Linked DNA regions of Homo sapiens. The gene in region 1 interacts genetically with each later gene. Each region holds a gene or a part of one and is shown on either strand. Other genes may lie near its edges. The genes, in order: GTPBP4, PITRM1 and ATG10.

Region 1 (3,657 bases):
TCCTGAAGTGCTGGGATTACAGGCATGAATCACTCCACCCTACCTTAAGATCACTTTTGCTTTGAAATAGATTTGTGAGTTTTATTTTGTCTACAGGTTGCTGTGACATGGTGACCAGCAAAGCTCTGCAGGGTCCTTGCTGATTTTTCAAATGCTTGTCAGCTCTGAACCTGCCCTGAGCTCTGAGCCAGTGCTCTGTGGCCGATTTGGTGGCCACTGCACTGGGTGGCTTTTTAAATTGCAGTTTAATTCAGCAAAATGAAAATTTCAACTCCTCAGTCACATGAGCCACATACTGAAAGTTCATTAGCAGTGCATGACTGGTGGCCCGGTTTGGACAGTGCAGACAGAACATGCCTGTCATCATAAAGAGCTCTGCGGGCATTGCAGGCGGTGGGGCAGGACTTGGGAGGGTGAGGGGAGGTGGTGGCTGTCCTCCAAATGCCAGCCCTCACGCTGTCCTAGTACCCCAGTCCTTGGCCTGGTGGTGCAAAGGGAGAGGTACCAGGCTCCTATTCGATGCAGTTTTATCGTGTGAGGTTTCTTCTATGGTTATTTCCTACCCAAAATCAGTCTTGTTAAAACACACAGATCCCACGTGTACACAGAGGAAATGAGGTGATTCTGAAAGTTCTCACTTGTTCCAGGTGACGAGAGCAGACGTGGATGTCCAGCCCTATGCGTTCACAACCAAGTCTCTGTTTGTTGGGCACATGGATTATAAGTATCTACGTTGGCAGGTGAGAGTCTTGTCTTTATTTTTATTCATTTATTTATTTTGAGTTGGAGTTTCACTCTTGTTGCCCAGGCTGGAGTGCAGTGGCATGATCTCAGTCCACTGCAACCTTCACCTCCCAGGTTCAAGTGATTCTCCTGCCTCAGCCTTTCGAGTAGCAGGGATTACAGGTGCACACCACCACGACCGGCCAATTTTTGTGTTTTTTTAGTAGAGAGGGGGTTTCACCATGTTGGCCAGGCTGGTCTTGAACTCCTGACTTCAGGTGATCTGCCCGCCTTGGCCTCCCAAAGTGCTAGGATTACAGGTGTGAGTCACACTGCACCTGGCAAGAGTCTTGTCTTTAAACAGAACAAATATCTTGGTTTATCAAGAACTTGAAATTTCTCCATCATCATAAAGAAAACTCATCTGAGCTCTTGGGATGCATAAGAACAGGTCGCATGTCTCTGATATAATTCAGGGGAGGCAGCCAGCTGCCAGTGTGGATTTCTGCATTTTCTTAACATAAAATGAAATTATCTTTGTGTCATTTCTAACTCTGTTATCAGAAATGGCATATATACAGTTTAAAAGCGTGAAGCAGGCTGGGCACAGTGATTCACGCCTGTAATCCCAACACTTTGGGAGGCCAAGGCAGGCAGCTAACCTGAGGTCAGAAGTTCGAGATTGGCCTGGCCAACATGGCGAAACCCCATCTCTACTAAAAATACAAAAATTAGCTGGACGTGGTGGTGGGTGCCTGTAATCCCAGCTACTTGGAAGGCTGAGGCTGGAGAATCGCTTGAACCCAGAAGACAGGGGTTGCAGTGAGCCGAGATTGTGCCATTGCACTCCAGCCTGGGCGACAGGAGCGAAACTCTGTCTCAAAAAAAATAAATAAATACAAAGCAAGAAGCAATGTTTCCACACTCTAATTTTGTAAATTGTGAAGAAAGTAATTCCTAAGACATGGGAGGGTTCTCAGTTATCCCAGTTTTTGTGTTTTATGATGTCGCTGGTAAAAAGAGGAGTCATTTCTCTCAACATCATGGCTAGCATTTCTTTGAGCTCTACAGGGTTCCTCCTCCCTTTTTTGATGTTTAAATAGTATGTACTTTTCTGTCACTGGTTTATTTTGTGGTATTCAGTTTGGGAGACCTACTTTTTTTTTTTTTTTTTTTTTTTTGAGATGGAGTCTCTGTCACCCAGGCTGGAGTGCAGTGTCGCTATCTTGGCTCACTGCAAGCTCCGCCTCCCTGGTTCACGCCATTCTCCTACCTCAGCCTCCCGAGTAGCTGGGACTACAGGTGCCCGCCACCACGCCCAGCTAATTTTTTGTACTTTTAGTAGAGATGGGGTTTTGCCGTGTGAGCCAGGATGGTCTCGATCTCCTGACCTCGTGATCCACCCGCCTCGGCCTCCCAGAGTGCTGGGATTACAGGTGTGAGCCACCGCACCCAGCCCTACTTTTTTTTTTTTTTAACTACAATTCTGCTGTAAGATTATTAGGTCTGGTTGGGTGTGTGTGAGTGACTTCTGGGATGTGCTGGACAAGAAGCTTGTGGGTGAGTGTGCTTTCAGTGACAAGGTCTGGCTGTGTTAGGTTGTAGACACTCCTGGGATCCTGGACCACCCTCTGGAGGATAGGAACACCATCGAGATGCAGGCCATCACTGCCCTGGCCCACCTCCGTGCTGCGGTCCTGTATGTGATGGATTTGTCTGAGCAGTGTGGGCATGGGCTGAGGGAGCAGCTAGAACTCTTCCAGAACATCAGACCTCTCTTCATCAACAAGGTGTGTGTGGTCACTCATGTTTTGCTTCATATCCTGCAGTACGAGAATAATGATTTCATTATTTTTCTTCCTTGCCTAGCCTCTCATAGTTGTAGCCAACAAATGTGATGTGAAGAGAATAGCTGAACTTTCTGAAGATGATCAGGTAAATCACGTTAATATTTTGAATATTTCTTACTTACCAATTCTGAATTCTCATCTCAGACAACCAAAGTTTAGATGAAGGAATTTTAGCAATACTAGTCCACAATTGTATTTTATAGTTGAGATAATATCCTCAGTGGTTTAGTGAAAAGACATAATAAAAACTTAGTTATTGGCAAACTAAAACGAAAACATAAGTTTCTGGATTCTTTGTTCTTGAGTGTGTGGAAGCATCTGTATTTGATGGGTTGGACTTTTGGAAAATGTGATTACTTAGGAGAGAACTGTTGGAGAAGGGTGCTCACAGGTGTTACTTCATAAAACAGGTTCTGTGATTAAATGAGTTTGGAGACTAATGATTGAGTGAAGGAGAAGGAGGATCTTGGAATTTGGGCTTTCTGGATCTGGATCTATGAGTGAGACGTGCCTGCTAGCTTTCTCCAAGAGGCAGGCAGTATTGTTGGACATAATTTTTCAAACTGATTGAATCCTACAACCTTTTTAATAGGCATCCTTCATGATAAATGCTTTTAGAAGCGTGCACTGGTGGAGTGGCTTTCAAATTGTGGTCCTGGCCCAGCAATGTCAGCATCACCTTCTTAATTTCTTCCTTAATTTCCTCATTGATCCATTGGTCATTCTGGGACATGTTTATAATTCTCATGGGTGGTTTTTTTTTTTTTTTTTACAGTTTTGAAAGTATCTCTTGGTATTGATTTCTAGTTTTATTCCACTGTGGTCTGAAAAGATACTTGGCAATTTTTAAAAATTGATGAGATTTGTTTTGTGGCCTAACATATGGTCTATCCTGGAGAATGTTTCATGGACTGAGGAGAGGAATGTGTTTTATGCAGCGGTTGGATGACATGTTCTGTAGATGTTTGGTCTACAGTGCACTTTTTTTTTTATTTTATTTTTGTTTTTTTTTTGAGATGGAGTCTCGCTCTGTCACTGAGGCTGGAGTGCAGTGGCACGGTCTCGGCTCAGTGCAGCCTCCACC
Region 2 (2,435 bases), 2.1 Mb from region 1:
TGTCCTCTTGATTGCAATCCTAGCTGCATGTTAAAACCACCAAGGGGTGGGTGGGGCGGAGGTGGGTTCAAAAATCTGATAGCCAGCTTCTCCTCCAGGCCAAGCCACAGTCCTCGCTGGGACCTAGGTTGGAACTCTCCGGAAGACTCCTGCCAGAGTAGACACGGCTGCTGGGATGACAGCCCTGCTGCCCTGGTGGGCCCCCCTCCTGTAGGGACAGCGTTTCTGCCTCTTAGCTCTAGTCTGCAAGAGAGAACAGCTGCGCCTCAGAAATGGGGGCAGAGAGCTGGGTGGAGGGAGAGGAGAGGCCAAAAACAAACTCTGTTTGGGAAATCAGAGTCCGACAGCCAAGAAAGAGCTAGCGCGGAGGCTTTCCTTTCTGGCTCTGTAACGATGAAGCAAGCGCTTACTCACCCCAACCCACTTGCTTCTCAGGACGGTTTCCATGCAGCCGCCGCGGTGAACTCCCGTCTGGTGGACACTCCCCCAGGGCCTCGGTGTGATGGAGTTTCCTGAATCAGCGCAGGCAGACGTGGGACACCCTTGTGCACCTTTTCATTTTACTTCTGTTTTTAAATAAAGGCCCTAAATGCTGCTTAAAATAATGACTCAAGCAGAGGTTAAGTCAGAGTTGCCCTTTATTTTTAGATTCTTAAATATTCTAGAATGAGGTAAAACGAGCCTGCCAGTACAAAGTGAAAATTCTACATGGTGCATCTTTGGCGCTTCATGCATGATTATTTCAATGAACCTCTTCCTGGTCACTCTTAAGATAGATCTGAGTTTTTGACTCGCCAGTCAAGGGCTTTGGCGACACTCAATGACATAATATTCTTGGAAAAAGCAGTAGCATTTCTGACTTTTCATATTCAGCTCGGAGGTGTATTGTCTCGGGCTCCTGTGCAGTCGAGCGCCACGGCTGCTCATTGGATGATCCAGGATGGGTCCTTGGCAATTTTCGGGTTCTCGGGTCCGAGGATGGCCAGGCCGTGTGTGCTCTTCCCAGTGCCGAGGTATCTGAGAGGAAGGCAGGCGTGGTCAGCAAGGACTGGCTTCTGCGTGAGCGCTGTTAGAGTCAGCACGAGGGCTTCCAGTCCCAGACGCTGTCTCCCCCGCTCCCCACTCACCTATCGCTCACGGCCAGGAGCTTGTCGTGGCTGACAGCAAAGAGCTGCTCTCTGTGGGCCTGCTTCATCTCATCCGAGAGGCCGTACAAGAAGTGGTCCATTCCTAGAAGACAATCCACAGGCACGATGGAGCCGCTGCCCGGGAGCTCGCGTTGTGGGCTGTGCACTCATGTCCCGGAGGGGACACAGGCATCTCACTGTCATTTCACGTGCATGTTTCAACCACAGGGATGTGTCTAACAACCCAGAGATCACACCCCGACCTCCAGCTCCCACGTGCCACGCTGACCCCTACCCACGCCTGCTTCTGCAGCAGGGATGCAGTCAGCGCCGCGTGAGGCTGATGATGCTGTGAGCAAAAGCGGCTCCAGAGAGTAACGTGGCCATGCCCGGGCCGTGCCCACGTCCTCCTTCCACCCTAAAGAGCCCGGACACTGCCATGGGTTGGCCCCACTGGGTCTCAGGTCAGTAAAACAAATGACAGGATGCACTCTTCTCGCCCGGATGTCAGGAAGCGTGTTTAGGGTGTCAGACGTGGAAATCGTATCACAAGCAAGGATGGAGGCACCAGAAGCTAGTGCTCCTGCCCATGCATGCCGGGAACTTGGAAAACAGCAACGTCATCTGTGAGGCTGTGGGTTGAGATTCTCACTGTTATACTCAAAATACCTTTGTCTGAAGGAGCGACAGGAGCATCTACGGTTGAGAAGACAGAAAGTTTGGCTTCGTCGATGTCTTGCTGTGTGAATTTTCCAGACTTAGCCCAGTCGACAGCCTTCCCAAAAGACTGGAGCGTCTCTATTGTATTTGGGTCCCTAGGAAACCCAGAGAAATAAACGGGCAAGCATTTTACCAGTGGACAAGTTTATGACAAACCTCTGTCGACTTAACAGTTCAACATCTTCTATGGGTTAACAGCTCTATTTTATATCTGATTTAGTCCAAACAGCCCACTGACAAATCGCTCAATTACTCTCAATGGAAATTTAAATCTGATCACATAAGCCTTTCAACATGTTCTCCCTCTTAGACAAGGTCTGTCTGCACAAAGTCCTCCCTAGATTATTTAAATACACTTCTCTGTGACCTCATCAGGAGAGGAAAGTCAGTGGAGGGTAGGGGCAGGTCAGGATTACAGGGAAATTACAAAGACTTACATGGAAAAATTAAGCAAACAAAGGTTTTCCTTTCATCTCCCTGAAGACACACCCAGGGTAGTACAGGAATCAGCCTGAGGGGGCCAATCCAGACTTCCCTTCGTGTAAATGCAAAGAGCCCAGCCCTCCCTTCACCCTGAGCTGCAGAGGG
Region 3 (3,657 bases), on another chromosome or scaffold:
CCAGCATATTTTCAAGGGAAAAGGGGCTAAAGGCAGAGCAGGCAAAGAGGTCTCCAATCAAGTATTAAGCAGCCTGGGGCTAGGGCTATATTCAGGGAATTTTACTTGGAAAAAAAAATCAATAGACAACAGAAGGCATCTGTGGTATTCAGGTCCAAGAGAAACCAAAAGTATGACGGCTCACTACAATCTGGAGTCAGAGTGGATCTTATATAACTTTACCACAATTCTTGCTTTCAGTATTACAAAGGAAAATACCTCCTTCTCCCCCTACAACAGGCCCAGGATCCAATGGCAATTGGATCTCTCTCCAGTGGGAAGAAGTTTGAAGTTTTTAAAATATTTACTTAACAGAATTAAAGTATTTTATTTCAATATGAGTGCCATATAATTGTGGTGCTTCCATAGGATGGAATGCGATGGAGTCATTAAAGTATACATTTTTAAATGTATACTTTACGGAGACTGAAAAGAACATGATGCATTAAACTACTCACCTCCATGGGAAGACATGTCTGTCCATGGGTAGATGCTCCTAGATGTGACATCACAGACCCATTCTTAATTTGAAAGTGTATTTTGCACATGTAGCCATCAGAACAGTCCTGTGTTTCATCACCAAAAAATATATAAGAAAATGCCAATTATTTTAAGAATTCATCATTTTAAGAACCACTTCCCATAAGTTCCAAACTGATCAGTGAAAAACTAAATGTACTAAATGAGACTATATGGATAAAGAGACTAGTCCAACACCCTGTACGTAGTAAGTACTCAATAAATGCAAGTTTTATTCTCCTACCTCTCTTATTTATTAATGATGTTTCCACCCTCCTAGATTAAACCTTTCCCTTTTTTCCTGACTAGTCCATAGCACCAAGATCACAGAACAAAACTTAAGCTTATAGAAATAGCTTGTCACATAATTAATATTGATTTTCATGGCATACACATAGAGAACAATTTTAGGACTTGAAATAGATCTTGAAGCTGCAAGAAAGCTTCCATTTCAATTTCTTTCTCAAGGCAAGATCTCTATGAAAATGTCCCAGAAAGGTACTTATGCATCTCAGCAACTGCCTGAGTACCTCCAGGAACTGGCCCTTGTTACTCCCTTACACAGCGGTCATTTCCATTTTAGTGCATTGTACATTAAGAAAGTTTTGTCCTGTATTTCACATCCTTTAACTTACTTAGTTCTGCCCTCTGAAGTCTAATCCCTTTTCCACACAGCTGTTCTTCCAAGCGCTGAAGAAATGACCACCATTTGCAAATACTCCTTACAAAATATGGTTTCTGAGCCCTTTACCAGTATTTGTCTCCTGTTTCTTGTACTTGCTCTTAAATACACTAATGAATGATGTTCATCTAATTGTGGCCAGTTCCATTTTTTTAAGGTAACACTTTTTTGAATTCAATAAAGTCATGTGTAAGAATATAATACCTCCCCAAGAACAAACATACATGCCAATAAATATTAATTCCCCACCACATTGTCATACCAACATTTACATTTTAATAGAATTAAAATAATAAGGACTAAGGGGTTAATCTTCCTATAAGAAGAGGGAAATTTGGATGCAGTGACACAAACAGGGAAGAAAGCCATGTGAAGATGAAGACTGGAGCGGTGCATCTAGGAGCTAAAGATTGCCATCAGCCACTGGAAGCTAGAAGCAGTAAGGAATGGTCCTTCCCTAAAGCCTCTGGTGGGAGCAGGACCCTGCCAACATCTTGATTTCAGACTTCTAACCTCCAGAACTGTGAGAGAATAAATTTCTGTTACTTTAAGTCACCCAGTTTGTGGTTCCTTGTTATAACATTCCTAGGAAACTAATACAGTAACTCTATTTTTTAAGACACTTGACAGCACCTTAAGAATGCCTCCCAGTAAGTTGTGCTGACAAACAGCCAGCTCTCACTCAGGGGGCTGCACTGGTTAGTTGTTGATTGGTTAGATCCAACTCATTCTGATTGGTTGATGCCTCTGTCACAGGTTGCTAAATATTTTTAATATCATTCCTGCCTGGAAAGTAGGCCATCAGATATCCAATACTGTCATTTTTAATTATTTCATTAAGGATATCCATTTTGTAGATGGAATTACTGTTTTAAATTCCAGCTCTACACTATCTGACCACAAAGCAGATCCTGTAATGGTCTTCTACCATTGAAACCTTCGTATTTAGAAAAATGTAAATTTAACATTGGCTTAAACTGAGAAAGATATATGTAATGACTGTTGTCATTGCCACTGTTTCACATCAAACATCCATTCTTCCTTCTTTTGGAGCAGTAGTCATTGCTCCTCTAAGGAACAATTGCTCCTCAATTCTCCTGATTGAGAAGGGAATGGTTCCTTAGAGGAGCATTGGCTACTGTTACACTAATTACAGCTCCAGGGATAGACACAGATCTCTGATCCTGCCCATCAGTACTGCCGGCCCCAGAGACTCTGGAGGACAAATGATTACAGCTCCAGGGATAGACACAGATCTCTGATCCTGCCCATCAGTACTGCCGGCCCCAGAGACTCTGGAGGACAAATGATCTACATCACAGCCAATGGGATGAAATTCAGGATTTGGTTTTGGGGGGTTGGGAAAGGTGGCTGTTCTCTTCTCCACTAGGTTTGAGCCAGACAGACCACAAAAAAAAAAAAAAAAAAAACCTGGCAGCCATCATGTAATTAAACGAAGTTGGCTCTGCAACTCAGAGGAAAGCAAGACCATGAGATACAGAGAAACCACATTCTGACTACATTATTTACACCAACCATATCTGAAACTAGTTCTATCTCAGATTTTTCAATTACATGGCCCCAAAAAGTCCCTTCTTTGCTTCACCCAATGGGTTGGGTTTTCTGTCACTTGCAACCAAAATAATTTTGCTATTAAGTAACATAAATTTGTGTTTATTAGTTTAAAAATAGAAGATTTCTATTGTATTGTCAATCTTGAGATAGATAATCAATAGTTGATTATATAAAAGATTTACCATATACAGTCATGCATCACTTAACGGCAGGAATACCTTCTGAGAAACACGTCATTGGGCTATTCTGTCATTGTACAAACATCATAGACTGTGCTTACACAAACCCAAATGGTATGGCCTCCTACATACGTAGGCTATAGACATAGTTGCTTGCTCCTAGGCTGCAAACCTGTACAGCATGTTACTGTATTAATTGCAGGCAATTGTAACAAAATTTGTGTAAAATTTGTAAGTATTTGTGTATCTAAGCATATCTAAACAAAGAAAATGTACAGCAAAAATACAGTATTATAATCTCATGGGAACACTGTACATGTGGTCTGTTCTTGACCGAAATGTCATTATGCAGCATGACTATACGGTAAAACTATAATAGCATGTGTTTGAGAGAAAAATTACCCAAAGTCTGCAATTTCAAAATGATCTAGCCATAGAGATAAAAACCAAAACTCTCAGGATATTCAGAGAACACGGAGCTGCACTGTGTGTACTAAATATAGCTCATTAAATGAGGGTAACTGCTCTATTTTGTATTTTTCAATACCTGAGCCCTGGTCACATAACCTCCTCTTAAGGGAACATAAAATTTAGTAAAATTCTAATAACAATGCAAAATACATCTCCTTTGACATTAAAAGAGGTGAGTCAAAAATTCGTGTG

The links.
Region 2: changes in GTPBP4 (region 1) and PITRM1 together harm fitness less than expected from each alone (positive genetic interaction), as found in Homo sapiens cells (one large-scale study listed by BioGRID).
Region 3: of GTPBP4 (region 1) and ATG10, changing one suppresses a phenotype caused by changing the other (phenotypic suppression), as found in Homo sapiens cells (one large-scale study listed by BioGRID).

What each region holds. Positions count from the first base shown.
Region 1 is NC_000010.11:998,356-1,002,012, forward strand, and holds part of GTPBP4 (GTP-binding protein 4), read left to right. Parts: intron 1-647; coding exon 648-740; intron 741-2,321; coding exon 2,322-2,513; intron 2,514-2,592; coding exon 2,593-2,658; intron 2,659-3,657. UniProt on the Homo sapiens protein: Involved in the biogenesis of the 60S ribosomal subunit. Acts as a TP53 repressor, preventing TP53 stabilization and cell cycle arrest.
Region 2 is NC_000010.11:3,137,108-3,139,542, forward strand, and holds the end of PITRM1 (presequence protease, mitochondrial isoform 2 precursor), read right to left. Parts: intron 1,943-2,435; coding exon 1,797-1,942; intron 1,231-1,796; coding exon 1,128-1,230; intron 1,018-1,127; coding exon 924-1,017; 3' UTR 621-923; downstream 1-620. UniProt on the Homo sapiens protein: Metalloendopeptidase of the mitochondrial matrix that functions in peptide cleavage and degradation rather than in protein processing. Has an ATP-independent activity. Specifically cleaves peptides in the range of 5 to 65 residues.
Region 3 is NC_000005.10:82,055,443-82,059,099, reverse strand, and holds part of ATG10 (ubiquitin-like-conjugating enzyme ATG10), read right to left. Parts: intron 606-3,657; coding exon 498-605; intron 1-497. UniProt on the Homo sapiens protein: E2-like enzyme involved in autophagy. Acts as an E2-like enzyme that catalyzes the conjugation of ATG12 to ATG5. ATG12 conjugation to ATG5 is required for autophagy. Likely serves as an ATG5-recognition molecule. Not involved in ATG12 conjugation to ATG3.